Homo sapiens: one gene and its partners. The protein of the gene in region 1 interacts with the protein of each later gene in a pairwise test. Each region holds a gene or a part of one and is shown in the gene's direction. Other genes may lie near its edges.

The links.
Region 2: the proteins of STMN4 (region 1) and MALL interact in binary tests that used the Homo sapiens proteins (3 or more experiments, as listed by UniProt).
Region 3: the proteins of STMN4 (region 1) and TRAF3IP3 interact in binary tests that used the Homo sapiens proteins (3 or more experiments, as listed by UniProt).
Region 4: the proteins of STMN4 (region 1) and MARCHF5 interact in binary tests that used the Homo sapiens proteins (3 or more experiments, as listed by UniProt).

What each region holds. Positions count from the first base shown.
Region 1 is NC_000008.11:27,255,401-27,262,756, reverse strand, and holds the start of STMN4 (stathmin-4), read left to right. Parts: upstream 1-4,352; 5' UTR 4,353-4,406; intron 4,407-7,356. UniProt on the Homo sapiens protein: Exhibits microtubule-destabilizing activity.
Region 2 is NC_000002.12:110,084,819-110,091,844, reverse strand, and holds part of MALL (MAL-like protein), read left to right. Parts: intron 1-74; coding exon 75-242; intron 243-4,147; coding exon 4,148-4,273; intron 4,274-5,321; exon of another isoform or gene 5,322-5,412; intron 5,413-6,087; coding exon 6,088-6,150; 3' UTR 6,151-7,026.
Region 3 is NC_000001.11:209,752,039-209,759,066, forward strand, and holds the start of TRAF3IP3 (TRAF3-interacting JNK-activating modulator), read left to right. Parts: upstream 1-4,014; 5' UTR 4,015-4,271; intron 4,272-6,459; exon of another isoform or gene 6,460-6,816; intron 6,817-6,995; 5' UTR 6,996-7,028. UniProt on the Homo sapiens protein: Adapter protein that plays essential roles in both innate and adaptive immunity. Plays a crucial role in the regulation of thymocyte development.
Region 4 is NC_000010.11:92,343,166-92,350,191, forward strand, and holds part of MARCHF5 (E3 ubiquitin-protein ligase MARCHF5), read left to right. Parts: intron 1-6,183; coding exon 6,184-6,367; intron 6,368-6,505; coding exon 6,506-6,672; intron 6,673-7,026. UniProt on the Homo sapiens protein: Mitochondrial E3 ubiquitin-protein ligase that plays a crucial role in the control of mitochondrial morphology by acting as a positive regulator of mitochondrial fission and as an important regulator of immune response.

The sequences.
Region 1 (7,356 bases):
ACACTCCATCCTAGTATTGTTGCTGTAGTGCAACTTGGGCTGTGAGAGGTGGTGTCTGCAGAGGGGCGTTGTGGGCCCCATGCCCCTTTGGCTAAAGTCCAGCATTTGGGTAGATTGATCACAAGCAACAGGTCTAACCCAAAGTTGACTTGGCAGGTCCAGGGCCAGCCCACATTTCTCAACAAGGCTCACAGGGGCTTTCCATATTGCGGTGTGAGGAACAGAGCGCCCACCTCGCCTTCCCCTCCACCTGCTCCCTGATCGCCATCCTGTCCTTCTGAGCCTCCTAGTTTTGACCTTGCTGATTTCTTTTCTGATTTTGGTCTCTCCTCGCCCTTTGTTCTATGGACTTGGTGTTTGGTACATTTTCTTACCATTTCTGTGTTTCTTGTTTTATCAACATATTGCTTTATGCCATCTCAGGGAAGTCCCAGGGACTCTCCCACCCAGTAGGTCTTTGGGGCCGTGGCTCTACCCTGCTTACCTTACTCACTCTCTCGCCAGTGTCTCCCGCATCCCGTTCCCCAGAGTTCAAATCCAGGCCTCGCTGCATAACAGGTAGGCTGTTTGAGGTTACCTTTCCTATTGGAGTCTGTTTCTTTTATAAATGGGGTGGGTAATCCCTTTCTCACAGGGCAGTTGTGAGATGTACTGAGTGTGTGTGTGTGTGTGTGTGTGTAACCATCACAACCTAGTACCAAATGGAAACTAGGTAATCCTAGAAATAGAGCCACCCTCCCCATGACCCTTCTCCCCGACCTTGGTCTCTGCTGTCAGGCAGTGATGTCCTGTCTCTTTCTCCCCCTGTTCCAGCTCCACCCTCCTTCACAGTCAGTGAGGGGGACTCAGACCGAACTTGCTCCTCCCCTAGCAGCAGAGGATCTCTGATTGGCTGCCATCACCATGGCAACCTACTGCCTTCTCTCCCCATCCCTCACTTTCCAGAGCCAGCAGATTTGTGGAGTTCCAGACTTCTCAGGGCTGGGAGGGAAGATACTAGGGGAGGACAGAGAGGCCCCCTTCACAGCTAGGATAGCCATGCATTTGGGGTTTGCTTGGACTCCAAATTCCAGCCTGGTATGCAGTGTGGCCTCTCCTGTCTCCACATGTTGAGGGAATGACTTTCTGATATCCTTAGTTGTCCTGATTCCCACTGAAAAGGCTCAGCTTGATGGCTGAGGGTCCTGGGTTGGTGGCATGTGGCATGAATGATAAGTGTGTTGTTCAGTGATACTCACTGAATGTCAAACAGCACAGTGTTCGTCCTGCCGTCCTTGCAGCCCTGCTGAAAGGATTACACCATAGATTCAGCTCTGGTGTGCTTTGAAAACCCCAAAGGCTGTCAGGGCTCATTCCTCATCCTGGCCACCGCTTGGCCAGGGGCTGGCAGCCTAACTGGAGCCCTCCCCTCTGGATGTGAAGTGGGGGCTTGGAGATGTGTGTCTACATGGGGCCTCCTGGAGAACCACACGGGGTGCTGTGGTGAGATGCCAGCTTGCAGGTCCTGGCAGTGGGGTGCAGGTCAGGGGTTCATGCCAGGGCTTGAGAATCTACTTAATCCCCAGCACAGTCTGCAGGGTGAACATGTGACATCCATGCATTAACTATGATTTTCAAATGCTCATTGATGCTACTGTAGTTTAAAAATAATAACTTCAAAGCATGGGCTGAATTCAAGGCAACTTTTGTCATTATTCGTGTTCTCAGTCAATAGGGGTTTGGTGGTAGAGGGTGAACAAACCCTCCTAAAATAGGGTGAGGTGCCAGGCGTGGTGGTTCATGCCTATAATCCCAGCACTTTGGGAGGCCAAGGCAGGTGGGAGCCCAGGAGTTTGAGACCAGCCTGGGCAACATGGTGAAAACCTGATTCTATAAAAAATTAGCTGGGTGTGGTGGCACATGCCTGTAGTCCCAGCTACTGGGGAGGCTGAGGTGGGAGTATCACTTGAGTCTGGGAGGCAGAGGTTGCAGTAAGCCATGATCACATCACTGCACTCCAGCCTCAATGACAAAGCAAGACTTTGTAAAAAAAAAAAAAAAAAAAAAAGGAGGGAGGAGCAAGGTGATGGAATTATCACACATGCTACAACATGGATGCTCCTTGAAGACATGCCAAGAGAATGAAGCCAGATACAAAAGGACAATACTATTTGATTTCACTGATACGAGGTGCCTAGAATAGGCAAATTCATAGAGACAGAAAGTAGTTTGGGGTTAGCTGGAAAGGAGTGTTATTGCTTACTGGTTACATATGAATATTGGGGAACATGCCAAAGTTCTGGAGATGGAAAGCTGTGATGGCTACACAGCAATGCGTGTGCACTTGAGGCCAGTGAGCTATACACTTCAAAATAGTGAAAATGGTGAGCGTTATGTTGGACATGTTCAGCCTCAATAAAATTACCCCTCCCCGGCTGGGCGTGGTGGCTCATGCCTATAATCCCAGCACTTTGGGAGGCTGAGGCAGGCAGATCACGAGGTCAGGAGTTCAAGTCCAGACTGACCAATATGGTGAAACCCCATCTCTACTAAAAATACAAAAATTAGCCAGGTGTGGTGGTGCGTGCCTGTAGTTCCAGTGACTCAGGAGGCTGAGGCGGGAGAATCTCTTGAATTCGGGAGGTGGAGGTTGCAGTGAGCCGAGATCACGCCATTGCACTCCACCCTGGGTGACAGAGCGAGACTCTGTCTCAAAAAAAAAAGAAAAAAAATTACCCCTCCCCACCAAGAAGAACACATGAGGCAAGGCTGGACGGTGGAATGTGGGGATGATGGACACATCTTGGGGGGATTTAATCTGGAGAGGTGTTCTGGAGGAGGGGGTCTCGCTCCACAGCTGCCTGGCTCCTCTCCTGCCTCACCCTGCCCTCTCCAGCTCACTGGCTGAGGGCAGCAGCCTGTGAAGGTTATGTTAGTGGCTCCCTCATTCCCTGAGGGAACTACAGAAGCCACCATCGCTGACCCGTCACCCCCCCTCAAGATTCCACCATATGGAAATGTAAACTAGTACAGTCACTATGGAAAACAGTGTGAAAAATTTTTAAAGAACTAAAAGTAAATCTACCATTTGATCCACCAATCCTACTCCTGGGTATCTACCCAGAGAAAAAGAAGTTATTGTACAAAAAAGATACTTGCACATGCATGCTTATAGCAGCATGATTCGCAATTGCAAAAATATAGAACCAGCCCAAATGCCCACCAATTAACAAGTGGATAAAGAAAATGTAATACACACACACACACACACACACACACACACACACACACACACCGTGGAATACTACTCAGCCATAAAAAGCAATGAAATAATGGCATTTGCAGCAACCTGGGTGGAATTGGAGACCATTATTCTAAGTGAAGTAACTCAGGAATGGAAAACCAAACATCATATGTTCTCACTCATAAGTGGGAGCTAAGCTAGGAGGGCGCGAAGGCATAAGAATGATACAAGGGACTTAGGAGACTTGGGGGAAAGAGTGGGAGGAGAGTGAGGGATAAAAGACTACTCACTGGGGACAGCGTACACTGCTCGGGTGATGGTGCACCAAAATCTCAGAAATCACCACTAAAGAACTTATTCATGTAACCAAACACCACCTGTTTCCCAAAAACTTACTGAAAATTTTAAAAAATCCACCATATTTGGGAATCACCAGTGTAATGACCAGTCCATCTTCCTACCTGTGGCTCCCTCTGGAAGGCCCAGGAGGGCTGGATGGGAGGGGCAGTGAGGACCCACTAGTGTCAGCAGAGATGTGGCTGATACCTTTGCAAAGGTGGCCAGAGGGAAGCCTTATTCTCCAGAGACTCCAGTGCAGGGCCCTCATCAGCTCCCAATCCTGGGGTTTTTGCAGTCCCCGCAACCCCCCGCCTTCTGAGTCATCGTTCAAACCCACCAGCCCTTCTGACAGAGCTGGAAACAGGCACCAAGCCCTCCAGGAAGCTATTTTTAGGGTTCATCTGTTCTTTTTTATTTCTTCTCTGGATTCCATATTCTCTCACCCCCAAATTTAAAGGACCTAAAGATCCTGGAAATCATTCATTATACCCCCAGCTCGCAAGCTGTGGCTTCTCCCCAACCTTCTCTGTACCACTCCCTCTTTCTTTCTTCCTCTCCGCCCTCACCCCTCTGGTTCTCCAGCTCCACAGGCAGCAGAGAAAGCAGGCTCTTTGTCTGACATCATCTTTCACTCCCTGGCCTGCTAAGAGTTACTCACTCAGGCAATCCCTGCTCCACCAGAGGAGACTGTCCAATTGCCAAGCAACCCACTGCTGGCCAATCACAGAGCTTGGAGGTGATGTCATGGCAAGAGCGAGCAGTGGTGCTGATGTTGAGAGAAGCCCAGGGTACCACTAATTGAGGGAGTGAGGAAGAGAGCAGCTCGCTTCTAACTGGACTGCACGTAAGTAGAAATAAAATGCAACTAATTTGAGGCTTTTCAGGCAAAAGAAAAAACAAGACAGCAGCTACAGTGGGGAGAAGCGAGGGGCCTAGCACCTATTGTGTCACCTTTGGTTCTACTCAATCATTTAAACTTTGTCAGATCTTGGGGGAAAGGGGGTGAGGCAGAAAGAATGGCGCTCGGCCAAGGGGTGAGGGTGGGCTCCGGGTGCCACTTTTATTCCAGAGCTCAGGAGAGGCAGGATGGGTGGGAATTGTCAGATGCTATGGTGAGCTATTTCTGCATAAAAATGTTTTGTTGCTTAAGGAGAAAGGTTTTGTGCTGAGTCTGGCTGCCCCTGCAGCTGGCTGTGACCTGAAGATCCCTTTCAAGTGGGAAGCTCTCCTGTGTTTTTACCTTTTCTTCCTCAGACACAGCTTTTCTTGTCTCCCATTCCCATTTTGATCACACATCTTTTCCTTCGGCTCTATGCACGGGTTACTTTTTTCTCTTGGTTCTAAGGATGCAATGAGATCATCACCTCCTCTTGGCCCCGCCCCACCCTGAGGTCAGCCTAATCCTACCTGGCCAGAGGTGGCTGGCTCCAAAGCTGAAAACTGCAGACACCCAGAACTGCCACGCCCTGGTCCTTGACTGGGGCCCTGGCCAGTCCCCCTCCTTATTCAGCCCACCACACTTGCCAGGAGTTTAGGCATCATTCATTTCTCATCCTGGGACCCAGGGTTTTGATGTCCAGCAGTCAGCTGTCCCCACGTGGCGGTGCTGTCTTTGTTTTATTTCTCCCAGGAAGACACAATCAGGTGTGGTGGAGTCTTGTTGTCCTGAACATGAGCAGGTCTCCAGAATGCTGTGTGTGTGTGTGTGTGTGTGTGTGTGTGTGTGTGTGTGTGTTTGTATGGGGGTCGGAGGGAGAGGTCAGGAATGTTCAGGCACCCTTATCTGAATGCCCTGGGAAGGGATACCCCCTGTCTTAAGACCAAGAGAATACAAGGTGGGATGGCCAGAGGTGGCCTGCTGAGGCTCGAGGGATGGGTGGGAGGTTGAGAGGGAATATGAGGGAATCTGTCTCCACCTGAGGCTGAGCCCCCGCCTCCCAGGGGGAGGAAACCTCTCCCACAGGCGGGTGCTAGGGGAATGAGATCATCCTTCAGATGAGGAAATAATCATAGTGCTGGAGCAGTGAGAAGGCAGAGGGGAAAAGGTCTGATCTGCAGCTCCACAGAAGGAAGCCAGAGTCTCCCAGCAATGCTGCCCTAGTCTCTGGCTCACCCCAACCCTCCGCTTTGCTGCTAGGAGCTGTACTTTCACCCCTCTTGGAAACCACTGAGCACCTGTCAGCTGGTCCCAGCCCTCCTGGCATTCTCAGCTCCACCCAGGCCACTCCTGGAACAGCTCTGGAGTGAGCAGGATCTGCAAGTGCTAGATGGGACTACCATAGAGCATGCTGCCCTGTAGGGAGTGAGTTCCCTGTCACTGAAGGCATTCAAGCAGAAGTTGGATGGCCACCCAGCAGGGAGGCTTTAGAGGAGATTTTTGCATTATGTTAGGGATTGGTCTAGGTTAGTGTTTTAACTGAAGGCTGAGACCCATTAGTACATTGTGAAATCAACTTATGGATTGTAAATGGTATTTTGTTTTAATAAAATGGAATAAGAGTAGAAAATAATTAGAGCACATCTCATGTAATGGGATAATTAATGCTTCCTATGCTGTCTTTAGTTACATATCAGTTATGTGTATATTTGTGTGTACAAATGTACATATATGTCTGTATCTGTAATCATATATGTGTGTATATGTCCATATCATGACAAATACATACTGGATCATAATATAAAATGTAGCACCTTTTGTGAGCTTCAGTCAAAAAAGTTTGAGAAACATTAGGCTAAGTGACTTCTAATTACCTCTCCTAACCCTAAGACTACAAGCCTATGAAAAACTCCCAATAGATAGTCAACCTTTTTTTTTTAATTTTTAACTGCGGTAAATACACATAACATAAAATTTGCCATTCTATTTTTAAGTGTACAAATCAGTAGTATTAAGATTTACATTGCTGTGCATGCAATCTTCAGAACTCTTTTCATTTGGCAAAACTGAAACTCCATACCCATTAGACACTAACTTCCCATTCTCCTGTGCCCCAGCCCCTGGAAAATCCCATCCTACATTCTTTCTCTATAAATTTAACTCCTCTAGGTACCTCAGATAAGTGGAATCATACAGTACTTGTCTTTTTATGATTGGCTTATTTCGCTGAGTGTAATGTCCTCAAGGCTCATCCATGTTGTACACTGTGTGTCCCTATTCCCAAGTAAAAAATAAGTGCCTTTAAGTTGTAATTAAATCTAAATATTTTTTTTTATGGGAAGCTGTCCTTCTTTAGTGAGTTACTTCATTCTAAAGGACCTATCAAAGACGGAGAAGTTTGGTCTCATATTGTCCATAGTGGCCAGGTTGTCGACTAGAGGTGGAGGGACGGTGAAAGTGTCCTGCATTTTTGCTTGGATGGCTGCTTAATAGCTAGATTTCACTTTGGTTCAATAAAAGAAACCCAAATTCCAAGTGGCTATCTTCTTTTACTGGACTAGGCCATTTTTAACCACATTTTTCCTGTAGGGGGATGTGGGCTGATTGATAACTTTTAAAATAGAGCAACAAAGATTGACAAACTGAGGTTCAGAGAATAGGGTATTTGAGCAGGAAAAAGGAACATGGGGCAAATAAATTAGGAAGGTAAGAGAGAGATAAAGAAAGGAGGAGAATTGTGTCTATATTAAACCAACTGTATAGACGGATTGGAAAAATTCAGATATTTTGTGTTCTTGCTTTTAAATAATAGGATATTTAAGTATCAAGATCATAATCAAAGAAAGGCTTAATTTTTCAAGAATGCTTCAGACTGTCTCCCCTGCCCCCTCTGATATCTTTATATTATTTCATACTT
Region 2 (7,026 bases), on another chromosome or scaffold:
AGAGACACCCTGCAAAGGGAAACATACTCCACACTAGCTAATGAAGCCCCTTCTTTTATGCTTTTATCTTCCAGATATTTGGGTTCTTGGTCTGGACCATGGTAGCCGCCACCCACATAGTATACCCCTTGCTGCAAGGATGGGTGATGTATGTCTCGCTCACCTCGTTTCTCATCTCCTTGATGTTCCTGTTGTCTTACTTGTTTGGATTTTACAAAAGATTTGAATCCTGGAGAGTTCTGGTAAGAACCAGCAGCATGGCTCTTCCTGGGTGGACGTTCTGGGTTGGGTGAGGACAATTGGCCTTTCTGGGCAGGGAGGGATCCTGGGCTAGGCTCCTATGGAACCAAGACTTTTTATCTTACCATTTTTACTACCACGCTAAAATGAAGACATTTATCTGCAAGCGTAAATAATTCCTGGTATTCCCCTTCACTGGCTTCCCTGTTAGGAGAATACACAATGACCTGTGATCAAGCATATTCTGATGTGTTTCCCCTAAATTTTCTTCCTGGTAAAATCCTTGGAGCAACACTGAAGAAAAAGCTAGTAGGAAAAAAATCACTCCATTCTCAAGGCCCTAACACAATCCCTGCGACAGGGTATTTCTTCCATATCCCACATGAATTATATGCAAAGTATATATACATATATACGTATATACATATGTATATATGTATATATATGTATATATATACTTTAATTGTACTCTACAAATAATTTTGGATGTAGATGCTTTCATTTAATATTACATCACTAATTTTTATTTATCACGTCATCTCAAAAAACCATTTAAAACTGTTCCACACTGAACAATTGAAGACATATTTAAAAGTACAGAATATTGTATTATAGGCCCTCATGTAGCCATAACCCAGATTCCAGCATTATCAAGACCTTACCACATTTGTTTCATCTAGCCTTTGTCCCCACTAAGGAATTTTAAAGCAAACACCAAACATCATGCCATTCTATTCCACACACTTCAGTATGTTTCCAAAAAAACTCCGCAAACTTTCTCACATTATCACATGTATACGAAGTAAACAATTCCTCAGCATACCTAAGACAGTATACAGTGGTCCCCCATCTCCGGAGGATAAGTCCCAAGACCCCTAGGGGATGCCTGAATCCTCAGAGAGTACTGAACTCCGAATTTGCTATGCATGCACTTCTTTTTTCTTCTTCACAATTTCACAGATAGACAATTCATTCTTACTGTAGATCTTAACAACCTCAGCATATTTTTTTTCTTTCCTTATTAAGCTGAAAACTTATACTTTTTAACTTAAAGAAAGCACCCTATGACTTCTCTTTGGCATATCCAAATTGCCAGCATCACTACTCTTGCAATTTGGGGCCATTATGAAGTAAAATAAGGATTCTTTGAATGCAAGCACTGCAGTGCCACAACAGTTGATCTGATAGCCCAGATGAGTACAAAGCGACTAACATGGGTGGCACAGACAGTGTAGACATGCTAGACAAATGTCTGATTCACATCCCAGGTGGAACAGGGCGGGACAGTGCAAGATTTCATCATTGTACTCAGAAAGGCACACATTTAATTGTTAATTTCTGGAATTTTTCATTTAATATTTCAGACCAAGATTGACTTTGCGTAACTGAAATATACTGATCTTTATTAGTCTGCCATTGCTTACGACATAGATATTACATTAAAAACACTGTGTATTAGTCTATTCTCACATTGCTATAAACAACCAGAGACTGGGTAAATTATAAAGAAAAGAGGTTGAATTGACTAGTTCCTCATGGTTAGGGAGGCCTCAGGAAACTTACAATCATGGTGGAAGGTGAAGGCTAAGCAAGGCATGCCTTGCATGGCAGCAGGAGAGATGGGGGAGGGGGAAGTGCCATACTTTTAAACCATCAGATCCCATGAGAACTCATTCACTATCATGAGAACAGCATAGGGGAAACTGCCCCCATGATCCAATCACCTCCCACCAGGTCCCTCCCTTGATACATGTGGATTACAATAGGAGATGAGATTTGGGTGGGGACAAAGAGCCAAACCATATCATTATACCACTGGCCCCTCCCAAATCTCATCCTTCTCACATTTAAAAATACAATCATGCCTTCTCAACAGTCCCCCAAAGTTTCAACTTATTCCAGCATTAACCCAAAAGTTTAAGTCCAAAGTCTCATCTAAGACAAGAGAAGTCTCTTCTGCCTATGAGCCTGTAAAATCAAAAAGCAAGTTAGTTACTTCCAAGACACAATAAGGGTACAGGCATTGGGTAAATGCTCCCATTCCAAATGGGAGAAATTGGTCAAAACAAAGGGGCTACAGGCCCCATGCAAGTCCTAAACCCAGCTGGGCAGCCATTAAATGTCGACATTCCAAAATCTCCTTTGACTTCATGTCTCAGATTCAAGTCACCCTGTTACAAAGGGTGGGCACCCAAGACCTTGGGCAGCTCCACCTCTGTGGCTCTTCACAGTACAGCCCCTGCAGCTGCTTTCACAAACTGGCATTGAGTGTCTGTGCTTTTTCAAGGTGACCAGTGCAAACTGTCAGTGAACCTACCATTCTGGGGTCTACAGGACAGCTCTTCTCACAGCTGTACTAGCCAGTGTCACAGTGGGGACTCTCTGTGGGGGGTCTGACCCCACATGTCCCTTCTGCACTGCCCTAGTAGAGGTTCTTCATAAGGGCTCCACCCCTGCAGCAGACTCTGCCTGTACATCCAGTCATTTCCATACATCCTCTGAAATCATGGCAGAGGTTCCTAAACCTCAATTCTTGCCTTCTGCATGCCTGTAGGTCCAACACCATGTGTAAGCTGCCAAGGCTTGAGGCTTACACACTCTGAAGCAATGGCCCAAGCTGTACCTTGGCCCCCAGCTGCTGGAGCTGGGGCAGCCGGGTTGCAGAGTGCTGTGTTCCAGGACTGTGCAGAGCAACAGGGCCCTGAGCCTGGCCCACAAAACCATTTTTCCCTCCTAGGTCTCTGAGCCTGTGATGGGAGGGGCTACTGTGAAGATCTCTGAAATGCCCTGGAGATATCGTCCCCTTTGTCTTGGGGACCCTCATTACTCATGAAAATTTCTGCAGCTGACAGCTTGAATTTCTCCCCAGAAAATATGTTTTTCTTTTCTAACACATGATCAGGCTGCAAATTTTCCAAACTTTTATGTTCTGCTTCCCTTTTAAACATAAGTTCCAATTTTGGACCATCTCTTTGTGAATGCATATGATTGTACACTTTCAGGAAAAGTCAGGTCACATCTTGAATGCTTCAATGCTTAGAAATTTCTTCTGCCAGATACCCCAAATCATCTCTTTTAAGTTCAGAGTGCCACAGATCTCTAGGACAGGGGTAAAATGCCACCAGTCTCTTTGCTAAAGCATAGCAAGAGTGACCTTTATTCCAGTTCCCAATAAGTTCCTCATCTCCATCTGAGACCACCTCAGCCTGGATTTCATTGTCCATATCACCATCAGCATTTTGGTCAGAATCATTCAACAAGTCTCTAGAAAGTTCCAAACTTTCCTACATCTTCCTGTCTTCTTCTGGGTACCCCAAACTGTTCCAACCTTTGCCCATTATCCAGTTCCAAAGTTGCTTCCACATTTTCAGGTATCTTTATAGCAGTGCCTGACTCCTGGTACCAATTTTCTGTATTAGTCTGTTCTCACACTGCTGTAAAGAACTACCTGAGGCTGGGTAATTTATAAGGAAAAGAGGTTTAATTGGCTCACAGTTCTGCATGGCTAGGGAGGTCTCAGGAATCTTACAATCATGGTGGAAGGCGAAGGGGAAGCAAGGCACACCTTACATGGCAGCAGGAGTGAGAGAGGGAAGTGTCACACTTTTAAACCATCAGATCTTATGAGAACTCCCTCACTATCACGAGAACAGCATGGGGAAACTGCCCCCATAATCCAGTCATCTCCCACCAGGTCCCTCCCCCAACATGTGGGGATTACAATTCGAGATGAGATTTGGGCAGGGACACAGAGCCAAACCAAATCACACTGCAAAAAAAAAAAAAAAAGGCAGGACTCTAGGGGGCTGGCCTGCCTCATTTGCTCATTCTTTACTGCTATGTAGCCAGAGAGGAAAATGTTCACCTGATTGATGTGGCCATGCGTGGCTCTGCTCTGCATTTCCAGGACAGCCTGTACCACGGGACCACTGGCATCCTGTACATGAGCGCTGCCGTCCTACAAGTACATGCCACGATTGTTTCTGAGAAACTGCTGGACCCAAGAATTTACTACATTAATTCGGCAGCCTCGGTGAGTGGGCTGGCCAAGGACAGCAGTCTTGCCTGGAGGATGTTTCGTGCAGGAGGCCTAACTTTGCTTGTGCTGTATAGACCCTGAGCCCTCAAGTGGAAGGAGCCATGGGGGCAGGGGATAGGGATGTGTGTCCCTGTAAACATGTGCACCCACGTTCAGGGGTCCTCTTTTACCTTCTATTGTTCCCACTCCAGCTTTCCTCTCTCTTAGACACCCCCCACGCTGTCTGCAGAATTTTCTTTTTCCAAAACACAAATTGGAACAGATGTCTCTCTCCTACTGAAAATCCTTCAATGGCACCCACTGCCTTTGGAATGGGGCCCGCATCCCTCGGCATGGCTGAACTATTGAGAGATGAAGCAGGGAAGGGGAAAGTGGAATGTCGAGGTCTCAGGGGAGGAGGCATCAGGGAAGGCCCTGTCAAGAGGACAGAAGGAGGCAGGGGCCACCAGGCAGTTACCCCTGCTAAGGTCCCACCAGGCAGTTACCCCTGCCAAGGACCCTCTGTGTGCTCAAGGGCAGCCAGGAGGGTGGTGTAGCTGGGACAGCTGGCCATGGAGGATTGCAGGGGCCGTTGCTGGTCTTGCAAGTTTAGGAAGTTAAACTCACCTGATGAGGAGGGAAGGGAGGCAGACAGGCCAGAAGGCAGCTGAAATATCTTGTGGCCACCCCAGAGGGTCACAGTGCACTCCACAGTGGGTGGCATTTACCTCCATCTAACCCATGTATGTGCTACTCATCTATCTTGCTGCTATCTGCTTCTTATCTCTCAAATGTAAGCTCCATGAGGGCAGGAATTTTTGAATATTTTCTTCACTGTTATACCCACAGTTGCTCTTGAAGGAAAGCAGGTCCTTAAAAGATATTTGTTGACTGACTGACTGAATGAGGAGCGTGTGAGTGGACAGTGGGGCAGAGTGGGGCTGGGATGTTTGGCAGGGCCTGAAAGGTATTGAAGGTGACGGCCCTACCCTGAGAAAAGAGCAGAGCCATCATACAGCTTCAACGTGGGGCAACGGGATTGTGTTCTCCCCATGAGTGAGAAGTGTCCTCACTTGTCCACTTCTGCCTGCCCTGCCCAAATGGTGGAGCAGATTCGAGGGGCAGGGCAGGAAGAAGTGGACAAGTGAGGCCATGAGGAGTCCTGCCGAGGGATGCCGGTGGCTGAGACAAGGGAAAAATGAATGTCCCAAGAGCTAGGCAGGGAAATCAGTAGCCTTTGGGGTGGCTTTGCATATGGCTGGCAAGGGAGGCAGGAGGAGCCAGGGGCCACAGGGGTCAGGCTCAGGGAGTGGGGCGAGAGGAGGACCCTGGGGCCCACTGGGCTTGTCAGGCTTGTGAGGAAACGTCAGGGGCTCAGTGTGAGCCAGGAAGAGCTGGAGGATGTCTGAACATTCACGAGGAGCTGATAAGCAGCCGCTCAGGGCAGAGTTCTGGGCCAGCGAGGGGAGCTGTAGGAGTGTTCAGAACACAGATTTGCTGGAGGTGGGCAGAGGAGAGCGGGCCTCGGGCAGGAGGTCAGCGTGGGATATGGGCCCAGAGCTGTGGTGGAGGTGAGCCTGCTTCACAGCCAGGTGCAGATGAGGTGGAGACTGCAGTCGGGGCAGGACACCAGGACGGCCCCAGGGAGGCCCTGATGGAGAGTTTCCAGAAGAGGGAGTTGTTGGCCAGGGGTTGCTGCCCTCAGGCCACGCAGGAGGCGAGGAGGCAGGGTCATGCGTGGCCTCCTGGGCAGTGGGGCTGAGGGTACCTGAGGGGTGGGCAGGAGCTGGCGCTGCTGTCTCTAACAGTCACTCTCCACCTCCTTCCAGTTCTTCGCCTTCATCGCCACGCTGCTCTACATTCTCCATGCCTTCAGCATCTATTACCACTGATGCACAGGCGCCAGGCCAAGGGGGAAATGCTCTTTGAAAGCTCCAATTATTGGTCCCCAAAAGCAGCTTCCAACGTTTGCCATCTGGATGACAAACGGAAGATCCACTAAAACGTCCACGGGATTAACAGAACGTCCTTGCAGACTGAGCGATGACACCACACTTTGTTTGGACATTTAAATTCACTCTGCTGAATAGGAGGAAGCTTTTCTTTTTCCTGGGAAAACAACTGTCTCTTGGAATTATCTGACCATGAACTTGCTCTTCTAGACAACTCACATCAAAGCCCTCACTCCACTAATGGAGAATCCTAGCCCCACTAATGCCAAGTCTGTTTGGGGATTTTGCCTCAGCTATGGGCTTCCCTAGAGTAGGTCTAGGGGAATACTCAGTCTGATCTTTTTTTTGTTTGTTTTATTTTGTTTTTTTTGAGACGGAGTCTCGCTCTTCCTCCAAGGCTGGAGTGCAGTGACGCGATCTCCACTCACTGCAGGCTCCGCCTCCCGGGTTCCCGCCATTCTCCTGCCTCAGCCTCCCGAGTAGCCGGGACTACAGGCGCCCACCACCGTGCCCGGCTAATTTAGTTGTATTTTTAGTAGAGATGGGGTTTCACCGTATTAGCCAGGATGGTCTCGATCTCCTGACCTCGTGATCCGCCCGCCTCGGCCTCCCAAAGTGCTGGGATTACAGGCGTGAGCCACCGCGCCCGGCCTGATTCTCTTAAAATTGAAGAGGTGCTGCCAAGGCCTTCAGATCTAACGCAGATGCATAGACCTTGTTCCTGGTACTTGTTCAGCCTGTGCTGGGGAGCCGTGGTCCCGAGTTCCCTGGGAGGCTGACAGGGTCAAGCCACCCTGCCCACCACCCTCCCACTTC
Region 3 (7,028 bases), on another chromosome or scaffold:
CTCTTACAGCATAAATTTGAGGTTTCATTACACGAAAAGGCTCTCTACCAACAATGATGATACAAAGCAAGCAAAGACAAGAGGAGGACTTAGAACTCTGTCCTGCCACAAATGTACAGTCATAACTCGACAGAGCAGCAACCTTGCAAACGTAGGAGTCAAGGAAATACTTGTCTTCCTCCTGGTGAGTTTAGACTGTATCATCTCTGAGAATGAATATTTGTCTTTGGGATGTTTGTGTGGACATCTGAGTAAACAGTTACCAGCTAGACACTTGGAAAACTAAGGAGGAGAGTCTGCAAGTCACCTGATAAGGAGAACTTGAACTTGAATGCGAACAGACTTAAGTATGCCTGCCCTGAGCTGTTCTGCAAAATTTGGAGTGCCAAGGCCGCTGTGGACTATCCTATTAAGAGTGTCTGCAGCACTATTCTAGAATGAATAACTTAGACTTGAGGAATGCGGTGCTGAAGAAACCTTGTCAGGAGTGTAGGGAAGGATTCTAAGGCAAGAACAACTCTTATGAATGAGGTTGCCATTTCCCAGAAGATAGGTAGGAGTCACCCTGTAGAGTGGAAAGAGGAGTGGGATTAGAACTGGTAACACCCATGAGGGGACCCCCATAAAGTGTTTAACTTCATGGTGGCTCATGCCTGTAATCCTAGTACTTTGGGAGGCTAAGGCAGGTGGATCACTTAAGGTCAGGAGTTCGAGACCAGCCGGGCCAACATTGCAAAACCCCGTCTCTACTAAAAATACAAAAAATTAGCCAGACGTGGTGGTGCATGCCTATAATCCCAGCTACTCCAGAGGCTGAGGCACCCGGGAGGCAGAGGTTGCAGTGAGCTGAGATCATGCCACTGCACTCCAGCTTGGGCAACAGAGCGAAACTCCATCTCAAGAAAAAAAAAATTTTTTTAACTCCTTAGTGCTGTCTCTTGGAGTATGGGAGAAGTCATATTAGCATATAGTTTAGTTACCCCAACTGTACAATAAAATCTGATAATCTTACACATGCTTGTGTGGTATTGTGAAGCAACCAGGCTATAAAGGAAAGGGTAGCTTACCCCATACTCATCGCCTCATGGGGGACTACACAGGGCCCAGCATCTATCAAGGAAACTGTTTCAGAATATGACCATCAAAAAAGGGAGCCGTTGTTCCCATTGAACCTGGAAATGATGAGGAGAAGCAAAGGATACTGGCCACTAAAAGCCTGGTGCCCAGCTCAAGAGCAGCCTGAATTAAACCCTCTATTGGAGGCCAGCTGATGATTACACTACAAATCTCTACTTGAGCTTAATTTGGTAAATTCATTTTCTTAAATCCATTTTATCTAGATTTTAAAAATCATTAGCATAGTTACACAAATGACTCTCTATAATTAATTTCCACCGTATCGTGGCTACTTTCCATGTATCATTCCTAAACTTTTATAATGTCTTTTCTCTTTTTTAAATTGATTTGGCTCGCTGATATTTTATTTTATTGATTTTGTTTTCTATTTGTATGTCTACCATTCCTCCCCCTGCCAGATGCACACACAAAACTGAATTTTTTTTATCAATTTTAAACAGGATTCTAACTTATTATATATTCTCCTTTTATCATTTCAAAATTCTCACCTCCTTTTTTTCTGATCATTTTTTAGCAATTCATTTGAAAATAAATGAATAGGAAATTTATTTTTAATCTTCTTGATTTAGGTAATGAAAATGTTTAAAGCTAGGAATTTTCCTTGCATTCTGCTTGGCCATACCTCACAGATTTTCCTCATAATGTTGCCACTATCACCGTTTTCAATGCATTCTTAATTGCAGATTTGAAATTCCCTCTATCTTTTCAGAGTAAATGGGAAGAATTTTTTTCCAAGAAGTTAAAGTGTTTCTTTCTTCCATCTTTTGTTATTTATTTCAATTGTATTGTACTGTGGTCAGAAAATCCTGCCATAATAGATCAACTTTTCAAAACATATACTGAGGTTTACTTTTTGATCCATATGGTCAATTTTTTTAATGTCTCGTGGGCATTTGAAAATAAGGTATATTTTCTATTCTCAAAGTTCTGTGTGTGTGTGTGTGTCTTTTTCAATATAGATAGATAGGTATGACAACCTTATTAATTGTTTTGTTCTCAGAACACAATGTTAAGGGCTCAAACCTACTGTCAAGCAAACCTGGGTCCAACACTTTCTGTGTGATCTTGAGCATATCATTGACCACTCTAAATCCCAGTTATCATGGGATTAGTATCCCAATGACTGCGGACTTTGTAGACATTTCTTTCTGATGTTTAATGGAGTCCAAATAGTAGGTCTCTATAGGAACTCCTATTAAAATCTCCTGTCTTTCTTTACGCTCTAATGCCCTGAACTCCCAGAATCTTCTCACTCTTCTATGCCAATAAAAATTCTCTGGCCAGGCGTGGTGGCTCATGCCTGTGATCGCAGCACTTTGGGAGGCCGAGGCAGGTGGATCACCTGAGGTCAGTAGTTTGAGTCCAGCCTGACTAACATGGTTGAAACCCCATTTCTACTAAATACAAAAAATTATCCAGGCATGGTGGCGTATGCCTGTAATCCCAGCTACTCAGGAGGCTGAGGCAGGAGAATTGCTTGAACCTGGGAGGCGGAGGTTGCAGTGAACCGAGATCGCGCAATTGCACTCCAGCTTAGGCAACAAGAGTGAAACTCCGTCTCACTCTGTCGCCCAGGCTAGAGTGCAGTGGCACATTCTTGGCTCACTGCAACCTCTGCCTCCCAGGTTCAAGCGATTCTTGTGCCTCAGCCTCCCAAGTAGCTGGGTTTACAGGCACATGCCATGACATCCGGCTAATTTTTTATATTTTTGGTAGAGATGGGGTTTCACCATGTTGGCCAGGCTAGTCTTGAACTCTTGACCTCAAGTGATCCACCCACCTGGACCTCCCAAAGTGCTGGGATTACAGGTGTGAGCCACTGTGCCCGGCCAAAATTCTCTTTTTCTGACATCTTGGGCTCCCCAAGCCCTCTGTCCTCTACTCATTCCCATCTCTATGTGTCAAGCTCCAGACACAGGGCCTTGAGCTGTTGTCTCTCATCCTGAGTAAATGCCACTTGTCTTCAGTCCTAGTGCTTGAGAATCCATCCTCTGCTTTTCCCTGCCGATTCCTTGTCCTTTTTCTCCTCAAAGAACAGAGAAAGAAGCAGAAGCAGAGAAAATGGTGACAAACTCTCCACATGTTAATAAATGTTATCACAGCTATTTTTAAGTCTCATTACCTGCCTCACATGTGTCAAACCTTAGAATTCCAAAGAGCCACATACATCACCCAACTACCACAGTGAGTAGCATCCAGACAAGGTGAATTTTACAAGGTTACAAAGCTGCTCAGTTAACTTGTCCCAATCCAGTTTCCTCTCCACTATTTTAGCCTGAACTTCTTGGGAATTTCCTGGCTGCATCATTTGTGATGGCTTCATCTTAATGCATGCAAATCAGTTCCCTTTAGTTTTTCCCTAAATTTCCTAGTCCGGTTGACCAGATAAAAAAATGTGTAGAAGACTCTGCCTTCTATTCCTTCCTTCATCCCCCAGCTACCCACCTTTACACTCCCTCCTCATTGCTCCAGAAAGGAGCAAATCCAGAGTTGGTCTCATTCCAGAATCTGAGAAAGACACCACCTACTTCAGAAGAGCAGAAACTCTTTACAACACCAGGATTGGGAAGAGGTGGCTAAAGAAAAAGGAAAATCCTTACACAAAGAACTACCTGATACACATGAAAGCCTACACTGAGAACATCTCATCTAGGTCTTACCACCAAAAAGGCATTTTTTTCCCTCTCATAGAAACCACAAAGGTCTGAATCTGACCCAGAGGACTATCCTTTTCTAATCATGGAAAGGAATCTTGACTTGAAACTGTCCAAGAGCTCCGACCAATCCAGTAGCAAGAGAAAGGGTGGCCGGGGTGCCTACTGATGGGAGGAGCTCCTGAGCCCAGCCCTGGAGGCCTCAGAGTTCAGGGGCCCACTTAGATGATACCAGAGAGCAAGAGAGAGGAACTGGGGTTTGCGAACCTTGTGGCTTTGTCTGTTTCCTGTTTCAGCAAGGCTGCTGTGCAAAAAGAAAGACGGTACCAAGAAGGGACGTGTTAATGGGGCCCAGACCTATGGATTGAAAGCGTGTGCTTTACCCATCTGCTGTCTTGCTCCATCTGAGACCAGAGCCAAGATCTGCCCAGGACTGGAATGCTTTCCCGAGTGGCTTGAGTTGGAGCCTGGGACTAGGAGGTAACTGAGAAGGAGGATGCTTTTGTGTCCAGGTTTGGGAACTCCAACTTCGGGGTAGGGCAGAAGATGCTCTACCATCCCAGCTCCCCTGGGTGGAGAGTGGGTGGCATAGTTTAAGGGTGTCAGGGGTTTGGGTAACCAAGAAAGTATCCTGTATTGGTTTCCTGTGGCGCTAGCCATGGCACAGGGTACAGCTTGCACCACTCCTCTGTTCCAGTAGATTAGATTACATTAGATTAGGAGTGAGTCAAACGACTTAGAGTTCAGGCTACCCAGTGATATGGGCATGAATTAAATGACCTTTTACAGTTTTCTTCAAAGCAGGGATCCCTGAACACAAGACTGCCTTCCCAGCAGCTTAAGCGCAGGCCCCTCTCCCCTCAGTTCACACTGAGAGCTCTGGGCCAGGAAGGCCAACCCATGCAGGAAGCCATTCATTGTCTCCATTACAAACATGGCCAGGAAGTAAAAGCGAGACTCAGAAAGGCATGTCAAGCCACAGTCAGGTGAGGAGCCATGCCCTGTTCTCTCTCTGCAGCCTGAGAGACCAGGCTGAGCCTTCCCAGCCAGTAAACCTTCTTCCTCCAAGCTCTAAGTGAGCCCAGTCATGCTGCCAGGGGGGAACCTGAGAGATGCCAGAAAGCCTGGGCAGTGGCCAAGTGATCTTTCTTTGAACCCTACAGGGACCAGTTCCCTTTTCTTTAGCAGCCTACCCCTGTCAGCCGTCCCACATACCTTCTTGTTTTCAAGCAAGTCAGTAGGGTCCAGATATCCCAGAAACCTGGGTAGGGTTCTATGCAGCATGCTGCACCAAATCCTAGCAGGTGTGGTAGCCAAGGCATCTGGGAACACTCCCCTCTCTAAGGAGCCATTTCCACTGCAGCTCCTTTCTTGGGTAAGAAGGCTCCATGTCTGCCCCAAGGAAGCAGAGAGCAGAGCAGCTGTGTGTTTCAGTGGACTAAGGTTGGTGGCCTGGGTGGAGAGCCCAGAGAGACCTCATCTCAGGCACTGTCTTCTCCCCCACAGCCCTTTCCTCTTCGCGGCAAGAAGGTAGGAGGATTCTCAATGTTCTGCCTCCACTACAAAACCTGTGGGGAAGCTGAGCCAAACAGGGAGGGGACCTCACACCTTATGTGTGACACAGGCAGACCCCATCTCTTCCTTACCTTTCGGCTTGGTGTAATTGGGATGGCAATTATGTCCAGACCACAGAGAAGCCTTTCTCCTTATAGCCCAAACCCAGAGGTCAGAAGTAAATGTGACTTCAGCCTGGGGCCAGCATCCCCTCAATCTGGTAAACAATATACTCTGTCAAAGAGAGAGAGGGTTGAGAGGATGAGAGAAGGCATTCTTGGTCCTAGAAGTGCTAGTTTAGCTTGGAGCCTTTGTCTTACAGCACCAAGTCTTCAATATCCAACATCGGCATAACAAGGATAATATTCGCAATTACTTTTGCACCAACCTAATAGGAATACTTTATGTCTTTATTATTAAAAGGTAACATTTATTGTGTGCTCCATGCCAGGTGCATGGCCTGCATTTTGTCATTTAATCCTTATAACCTACAAGGCAGGTCCTAGCCCCATTTTATAAATGAGGAGACTGGGGCTTAGAGATGTTTAATAGCTTATCTAAAAACACACACAGGTTGTAGGTGACAGAGCCAGGACATGAGTCCACGCAGTGTGACTCCAAGAGCCAGGGTTCTCCACTGCAATCCATGGCAGAATAGCCAGGGGCTGTGGCTCAGGGATGCTGTGAGTGTAGGTTCTAGACATGGAGTTCACATGCACATAATCCTGCGTCTCCTCCATTCAGTCATTTATAACAATAGACATGGGTCTCTCAGACCCTTTCTTTTAAGTCTTTAAATAAAGAAAGTGGCAGGGAAGAAGTCAAGGGACCACCCCCTATGCCCACTCCCACCCTTATCCGAGAAGAAGAAGTAAGGAAAAACAAAGAAGAGAGCCATTCAGAATGGGTATGTAGAGGACAAACATTAATAACCTCACATTTCTGCTTGGAATCAATGCTGCCTGACACCAGAGTATGCCCCTCCAACCCTCAAGAGTCAGGCATTTGAGTGTCCAGGGCTTGACCACACAAAACTCCTCTCAGGGAAGAAGACTGCCCCACCCATGACCCTGGGGAATGAGTGGTAGGATCAGAGAGAAAACAAGAATCCTGCAGAGAATTCCAGACTGAGCCAGAGTAGCGAAGTCCCAGTAAAGGGGCAGAGAGTCTGCTACCTGTTGAGTCTGTTTGGCCTATAAATAAACCCCAAGGGGTTAGAGCTAGCAAATGCCTGCTAGTTGGTGAAGCTGAGATACCCTCCTCCCAGGGTGGTGGGTAATGAGGTCGTGGGAGGAAGAGAAGCAGCAGCAGCTGTGAGGGGGAGTCCCTCTTCCTTCATCAGTCCCTGGTCTGACTCCAGTGATCAGAGGAGGCAGGACACAGAATTTCCAACGCTCAGGATCCAGCTCATCCAAATCCAGCCCAACTCAGCAAAGTGACCAGAGGGTTCTAGGAGGATAAACTACAGAAGGTAGGTGGGGAAGAGTAGGAAAGAGAAAGGCACAGAGAAGGAAAAGGGGATTCAGGTCTAGGTGCTATGTGAATATCAGGTAAGGCCATGCAGAGGGTCATCCTGTGGCCCCTACACCAAGCCTGGCTCCCTGGAAACTTCTGATTACTGTCTTTGTTTTGTTTCTTTTCTGTTTGCAGCAGCCTTATTGAGGTACAATTCATGTGCTTGTG
Region 4 (7,026 bases), on another chromosome or scaffold:
TATGTTGTGTAGTTTTTCACCTCTGTCCTTTGGCTTACGTCACCTTCCCAACCTAATACCTGCCCTTCTAGTCTTCTGTGTACTTATCCAAATCTAAACCCTCCTTCCAGGCTTAGCTAGCTTTCCTCCATAGAACTTACAGGCAACTCCTGCCTGCTGTGATTCCTTCTTCCCCCACATTCATGACATTTTTATTCCTCAAATGGCAGCTAGTCCTGCCCTGATGAAGTGACATTTCTTATATAGATTATCTGTTTAACTTTTCTTGTTTTTAGGCCTTATTTTTCCTGTTAGGAGGTAATTTCCTTGAAAGCAGAGTCCATTTTATGCTTCTGTATTCCCTGTTACAGCATCTACATAGAAACTAACACATTAAAGGGTTTCATAAATCTTTGTGGTTTTGTTTTTTGTTTTTTTGTTTGAGACAGAGTTTCGCTCTTGTTGTCCAGGCTGGAGTACGGTGGCGTGATCTCAGCTCACCGCAACCTCCGCTTTCCGGGTTCAAGCGATTCTCCTGCCTCAGCCTCCCGAGTAGCTGGGATTACAGGCATGTGCCACCACGCCCAGCTAATTTTGTCTTTTTAGTAGAGATGGGGTTTCACCATGTTGGTCAGGCTGGTCTGGAACTCCTGACCTTAGATGATCTGCCTGCCTCTGCTTCCCAAAGTGCTGGGATTACAGGTGTGAGCCACTGCACCCGGCAGTCTTTATGTTTTTTATGTGACCACTTCAAATAATGAGTATTAGTACATCACCTGAGGAGGGAGGATCAGGATGATTTACTAAGACTGAGAAAGACATAGAAACTTAGAGCAGATTATACATTATTTAATGTACAAATACATTATATAGATATATATATTTTGCAAATGAGATTGAGTTATTTTCTTAAGACTTTATTGACCATAAGAAGTGAGATGGCTCTTTTTTAAGAAAGATTTTTAGGCTGGCACAATGTTAAAAGAATTTTGATAATTAATGGGGCACTTGTTAAAACACAAATAAATTGAAAACTCTGATCCCCAGCATCAAGGGATATAGTCCAAGACAAGACGTTCATAAATGAAACCACTGGAGAACAGTTACAGGTTAGATAGATAAATGTGATAAGAGGGCAGAAGACTATATAAACAATATTTTAATTCAGTAAAAGTGAAAGATAATTTGATTTGAAATTATGAGAAAAGTCTTGAGCTAACCCTTAAAGGAAATAATTTGAATTGGTAGAATGAAATAAGCAAGGAAGCAAAAACTATAGTACACATATGTGTTACCATTTAGAAATAACCTTCACATGTAATGTCTCACTTGAAAAGATTTTTTTTTTTTAGCCCAGAAATGAGACTAGCTATGACAGTAGGTGGATAGTGTTGTGTGATTTAAGAGTATTGGGAAGATGACTTTTACCTTCCTGAGCACATATGATAGAGAATGTGCCCCTCTACACCATCAGTAGTATTTAGGGTTTGCCTTCTAACACTTGATTGTTTTTCTCTGATTCCTTAACAACCCTGCAGTACAAGTAAACCAAATCAAGGAATCAGATCACTGTTATTTTCCCATTTATTTTCTTTCCTTCTCCATGGACCTGTCATAGAATCAATACTTTTTAGTTGTGGGGAACTTGAATAGGACCTTCCTCTTGCATTTTTATTGAAAAGACAACACAATAATTTTTTTTTCTCGGCACTGTATTGAACACCTAGCACTGATGCATTTAACCCTTGCAACAATTTTATGACATAGATTATTGTTATAAATTATTCCTAGTTTACTGGTTTAGAGAGTTTACAGGTCCAGTGCCACACAGCAGAGAAGCATTAGGACTCCTGTCCCTTGGCTCCTTAAGTGAAGCCTGGTCCCAGAGGCAGCTGGAACATTTTATCCTGGAACAGTGGAACCTTAATATGTTTAGCCTAGTTCCCATTTTTGCCTCTAGTGCAAAGACAGCCCCCATTAGCATTGCCCATTCTTAATTACAGTACTTACTTATCCTTGATTCTGAGTTAAAAAAAAAAAAACCCTGTTATTTCATCACTGTTTCATCCTCTTGTTAGGATTCTGGCCAGGTGCTGTAGCTCATGCCTGTAATCCCAGCACGTTGGGAAGCTGAGGCAGGCAGAACCCTTGAGGCCAGGAGTTGGAGACCAGCCTGGTCAACATGATGAAACCCCATCTCTACCAAAAATACAAAGAAAAAATTAGGCATAGTGGCTGTATTCCCAGCTACTCCGGATGCTGAGGCGTGAGAATCGCTTGAACCTGGGAGGCAGAGGTTGTAGTGAGCCAAGATTGCACTCCAGCCTGGGCGACAGAGCAAGACTCTGTCTCTAATTAATTAATGTAGAATTCTAATAATAATTTAAAAGCTCAGACCTTAATTAAAACTGTTAGCCTTTCAGCAGCAATGAACTGCAGGCCTACCTAGATATGAAAATCTAGCTTTTAGCCCTTCTGCAGGAAAAACAAAAAATTATTTTTCTCTAAACCTGCAATTCTATAGGTCTTTTGTTTTTCTCTTTTTTTTTTTTCTTTTTTTTTTTTTTGAGACAGAGTCTCATTCTGTTACCCAGGCTGGAATGCAGTGGCGCAGTCACGGCTCACTGCATCCTCGAACTCCCTGGGCTCAGGTGATCCTCCCACCTCAGCCTCCTGCACAGCTGGGACTACATACACATGCCACCACGCCCTGCTAATTTTTGTATTTTTTGTAGAGACAGGGTTTCACCATGTTGCCCAGTCTCAAACTCCTAGACTCAAGTTACCCACCTACCTCAGCCTCCCAAAGTGCTTGGATTACAGGCGTGAGCCACTGTGCCCAGCCAGGCCTTTATTTTATACATAGATAACAAATTCTTAGACATTCTATATAATTCCTGGAGCTTACCCCAAAATCGAAGTCTTAAAAATAATGTTTTTAAATCTTGGGACAAGAAAGCAGAATGTATGTGATTACACACAGGTTCACTGACTTTGTATTGGCCAAAATTAAATCAGGCCTATTGCTTAATCACCTTTCATTTATTGCCCCTGAGTATGACTGTTTTAGCAAGTGGTGTACTGCAGGTGTTATACTACCTTATTTCTTCACAGTGTATATATTTGCACACTTGTTTGGTTTGATTTTCTCTCACTTTCAAAAGACATCTGTTTAACCTGCCATTTTAGCCCCAGCACAAAATCATTATTCAGTGAATGAATGAATGCATGTGTGAATGATGAGCCTCATCCCACTTCTAACTTGCTTGAGCATGGGGCATCTCTCTTCACTTTAGTTGTAACAAGTGAAATACTGGGCCTTTGCTCATTCTTTGCCCTATTTCCTTCTTTTTTTTTTTTTTTTTTTTTTTGAGATGGAGTTTCACTCTTGTTGCTCAGGCTGGTGCAATCTCGGCTCACTGCAACCTCCACCTCTTGGGTTCAAGCGATTCTCCTGCTTCAGCCTCCCGAGTAGTTGGGATTACAGATGACCACCACCACGCCTGGCTTGTATTTTTAATAGAAACGGGGTTCCACCATGTTGGTCAGGCTGGTCTCAAACTCCTGACCTCAGGTGATCCGCCTGCCTCAGCCTCCCAAAGTGCTAGGATTACAATTGTGAGTCACAGTGCCCAACCCCTACTTCCTTTTTGTTTCCTTATTCTTAAACACCTTATAAGGTTTTTACTGCTACCCATGAGAAACAAACTTCCTCTTGTTCGCTCTAGTCTATACCTGAATATTCACTCTTCTTTATATTTCTAAACCCAAAAAAAGGACACATAACCCGACAAAGGATTTTTTCAAATATTCTGAATTTATTTGCTAACACTTTGAGAATATTTAATCATATTTAGTTATAATGTTAGAGTGATCATTATATTGAAATTTTTAATGATATAAAAATAGAATTTCTTAGCCAGACGTGGTGGCACTCATCTGTAGTTCCAGCTACTCAGGAGGGTGAGGTGGGAAGATTGCTTGAGCCCAGGAGTACAAAGCCAACCTGGGAAACGTAGCAAGACCCTGTCTTTTTTTTTCTTTAAAGGAATTTCCTGGCCGGGCGTGGTGGGTCACGCCTATAATCCCAGCACTTTGGGGGGCCAAGGCAGGCGGATCACCTGAGGTCAGGAATTCGAGACCAACCTGGCTAACGTGGTGAAACCCCATTTCTACTAAAAATACAAAAAAGTAGCCAGGTGTTGTGCCATGTGCCTGTAATCCCATCTACTCAGGAGGTTGAGGCAGAAGAATAGCTTGAACTCAGGAGGTGGAGGTTGCAGTGAGCCAAGATCATGCCAAGACTGAAACTCCGTCTCAGATAGATAGATAGATAGATAGATAGATAGATAGATAGATAGATAGATAGATAGATAGATGATAGATATATAGATAGATAGATAGATAGATAGATAAAGAAATTTCCTGGGAAATCATTATAGGTAAAACAGTCATGGCCAGCTAACTTTTGCTACCATTATGGAATTGGGGTTTATGAAATATCATAAACCAGACCATTTCACTTTAGGGCAACTCAAAAGGATCACCTTCCACATGCAAGATAGGAAGTTGTTAAGTTCTACCTGGAGACACAGAAGAATATCAAATTCGATGACATTATTGACCATTAGGAAGAGGCTAGCCTCCTGCCCTTTAATATTACATCTTAATTAGATAAATTAACCAAGTGGAAATCTGGACTATATCCATAGCTCAAATTTGGTCCTCTCCACACACTTTCATAAAACATTTCTGGGGCCGGGCGCAGTGGCTCACGCCTGTAATCCCAGCACTGTCGGAGGCCGAGGCGGGTGGATCACCTGAGGTCAGGAGTTCGAGATCAGCCTGACCAATGTGGAGAAACCCCGTCTCTACTAAAAATACAAAAATTAGCTGGGCGTGGAGGTGCACACCTGTAATCCCAGCTACTCGAAAGGCTGAGGCAGGAGAATTGCTTGAACCTGGGAGGCAGAGGTTGCAGTGAGCCAAGATCGTGCCATTGCACTCCAGCCTGGGCAACAAGAGCAAAAAATTCCGTCTCAAAAAAAAAAAAAAAATTTTTGGCCAGGCACGGTGGCTCGCGCCTGTAATCCCAGCACTTTGAGAGGCCGAGGCAGGCTGATCACCTGAGGTCAGGAGTTCGAGACCAACCTGGCCAACATGATGAAACCTCGTCTCTACTAAAAATACACAAATTAGCTGGGCATGGTGGCATGCCCCTGTAATCCCAGCTACTCGGGAGGCTAAGGCAGAAGAATCGCTTGAATCCAGGAGCCGGAGGTTGCAGTGAGCCAAGATCACACCACTGCACTCCAGCCTGGGCAACACAGCGAGACTCCATCTCAAAAACAACAACAAAAAGAGGTAAATTTAAGGCCAAGATTGATGTGGAAGTGAAAAGGATTTTGGAGAGAGGGAAAAGGTAGAAGTTCACAAATGCCAATTTTGTATTTCTCGCCTTCTGGGATCTACACCAATTTAGAAATAGCCCCAAGACTAGGATAGGGTAAGGAAAAGATTGTATTAGCTTCATTACCCCCATAGATAGGGTACCCTAGAGTTCCTGAATTGGGAAAAATGCCTGGGATCTGTAACCAAAACTGGACCTCCTACTACAGTCCCTCAATTCTAGACCTTGGAAGTGCACTTAAGGAGGGTTAGGTCTGTAGGGTAGACACTTAGCCAGCCAGAGACATCACACCCTATCTTACACACCACTAAGTAAGGAGAAAGAGCCAAAGAGAAATGAGCTTTCAGGCCATCTCTTGAAGGCCGGTCCTACCTCTTGGCTGGCTATGCTTAATCTCCTAGAAGGAAGATCAGGAAAACAGTTGTTTTGCTGGAAGACAAATAGGACTTAGAATTATATCCCAGTTCCGTAGCCCAGTCTAACCAAATCAAATAAAGGAATAGAAGCAACAATCAGAGGTCCCCGCCCCTCTATTGTAATGTAATCAGTCTGGGTCAGCCATTTTAATTTTTATTCCTGTGTGGTATGAAATGGCTTGGGAACTTTGTTTTTCCCTTGAATGAGACATTTCTTATAAATAAATCAGGACTGATAGCTTTCCAGCTTATTTTTTAAACTTTTTATTTCTGTGTATTCTTTTGAAATTAAGCATTTTCTATTAAAAAAATAGAGCTTAACATGCAACACCTCATTTGAAAAAGAAGTAATTCTAATATATGCTATCTGTTTCACAGGTTGTAGGTCATAAAGAAGGTCTGGATGTTATGGAGAGAGCTGATCCTTTATTCCTTTTAATTGGACTTCCTACTATTCCTGTCATGCTGATATTAGGCAAGATGATTCGCTGGGAGGACTATGTGCTTAGACTGTGGCGCAAATACTCGAATAAACTACAAATTTTAAATAGTATATTTCCAGGTAAGGCACTGAACTGTGGTTGTAAAGTGCATACCAAATTGATCTTGAAGAACAATAACATGCTTTTTTAGCCATGTTTGAAGGTAGTCTAACTCTTCTGATTTATTAGCACTAACGCACTGCATTTTTTTCCTCTAGGGATAGGTTGTCCTGTTCCTCGAATTCCAGCTGAGGCCAATCCTTTAGCAGATCATGTCTCTGCTACTCGAATCTTGTGTGGAGCCCTTGTCTTTCCTACTATTGCTACAATAGTTGGTAAATTGATGTTCAGTAGTGTTAACTCTAATTTACAAAGGACAATCTTGGTAAGACGGCTTTAACATTACTTATATTACCTTGCAAAAGAGAATGAAGTGTATTTGTTTTTAAAAGGTGGGGAACTGTATAAATATTCGGTCTGTGGCTCCTATGCATTAAGCCTCTATTTGAGCCTCACTATCATTCAATAGCTTGAGTGGAAATAAAAAGAGGAGAAACCACTGCAGCAGTTCTGGCCTTTTGGAACTATGTTGTAGGTGCTTTCTCTCCTGGCATATGCATGAATCATCACACCTGTCCCTCTTGCCAGTGGGATTACAGTACTTTACGATCAGACCACCTGGTTCAAATCCCATCACAGAAATTGTCTTGCTGTGAAATCTAAATCAAATGTCTGGACT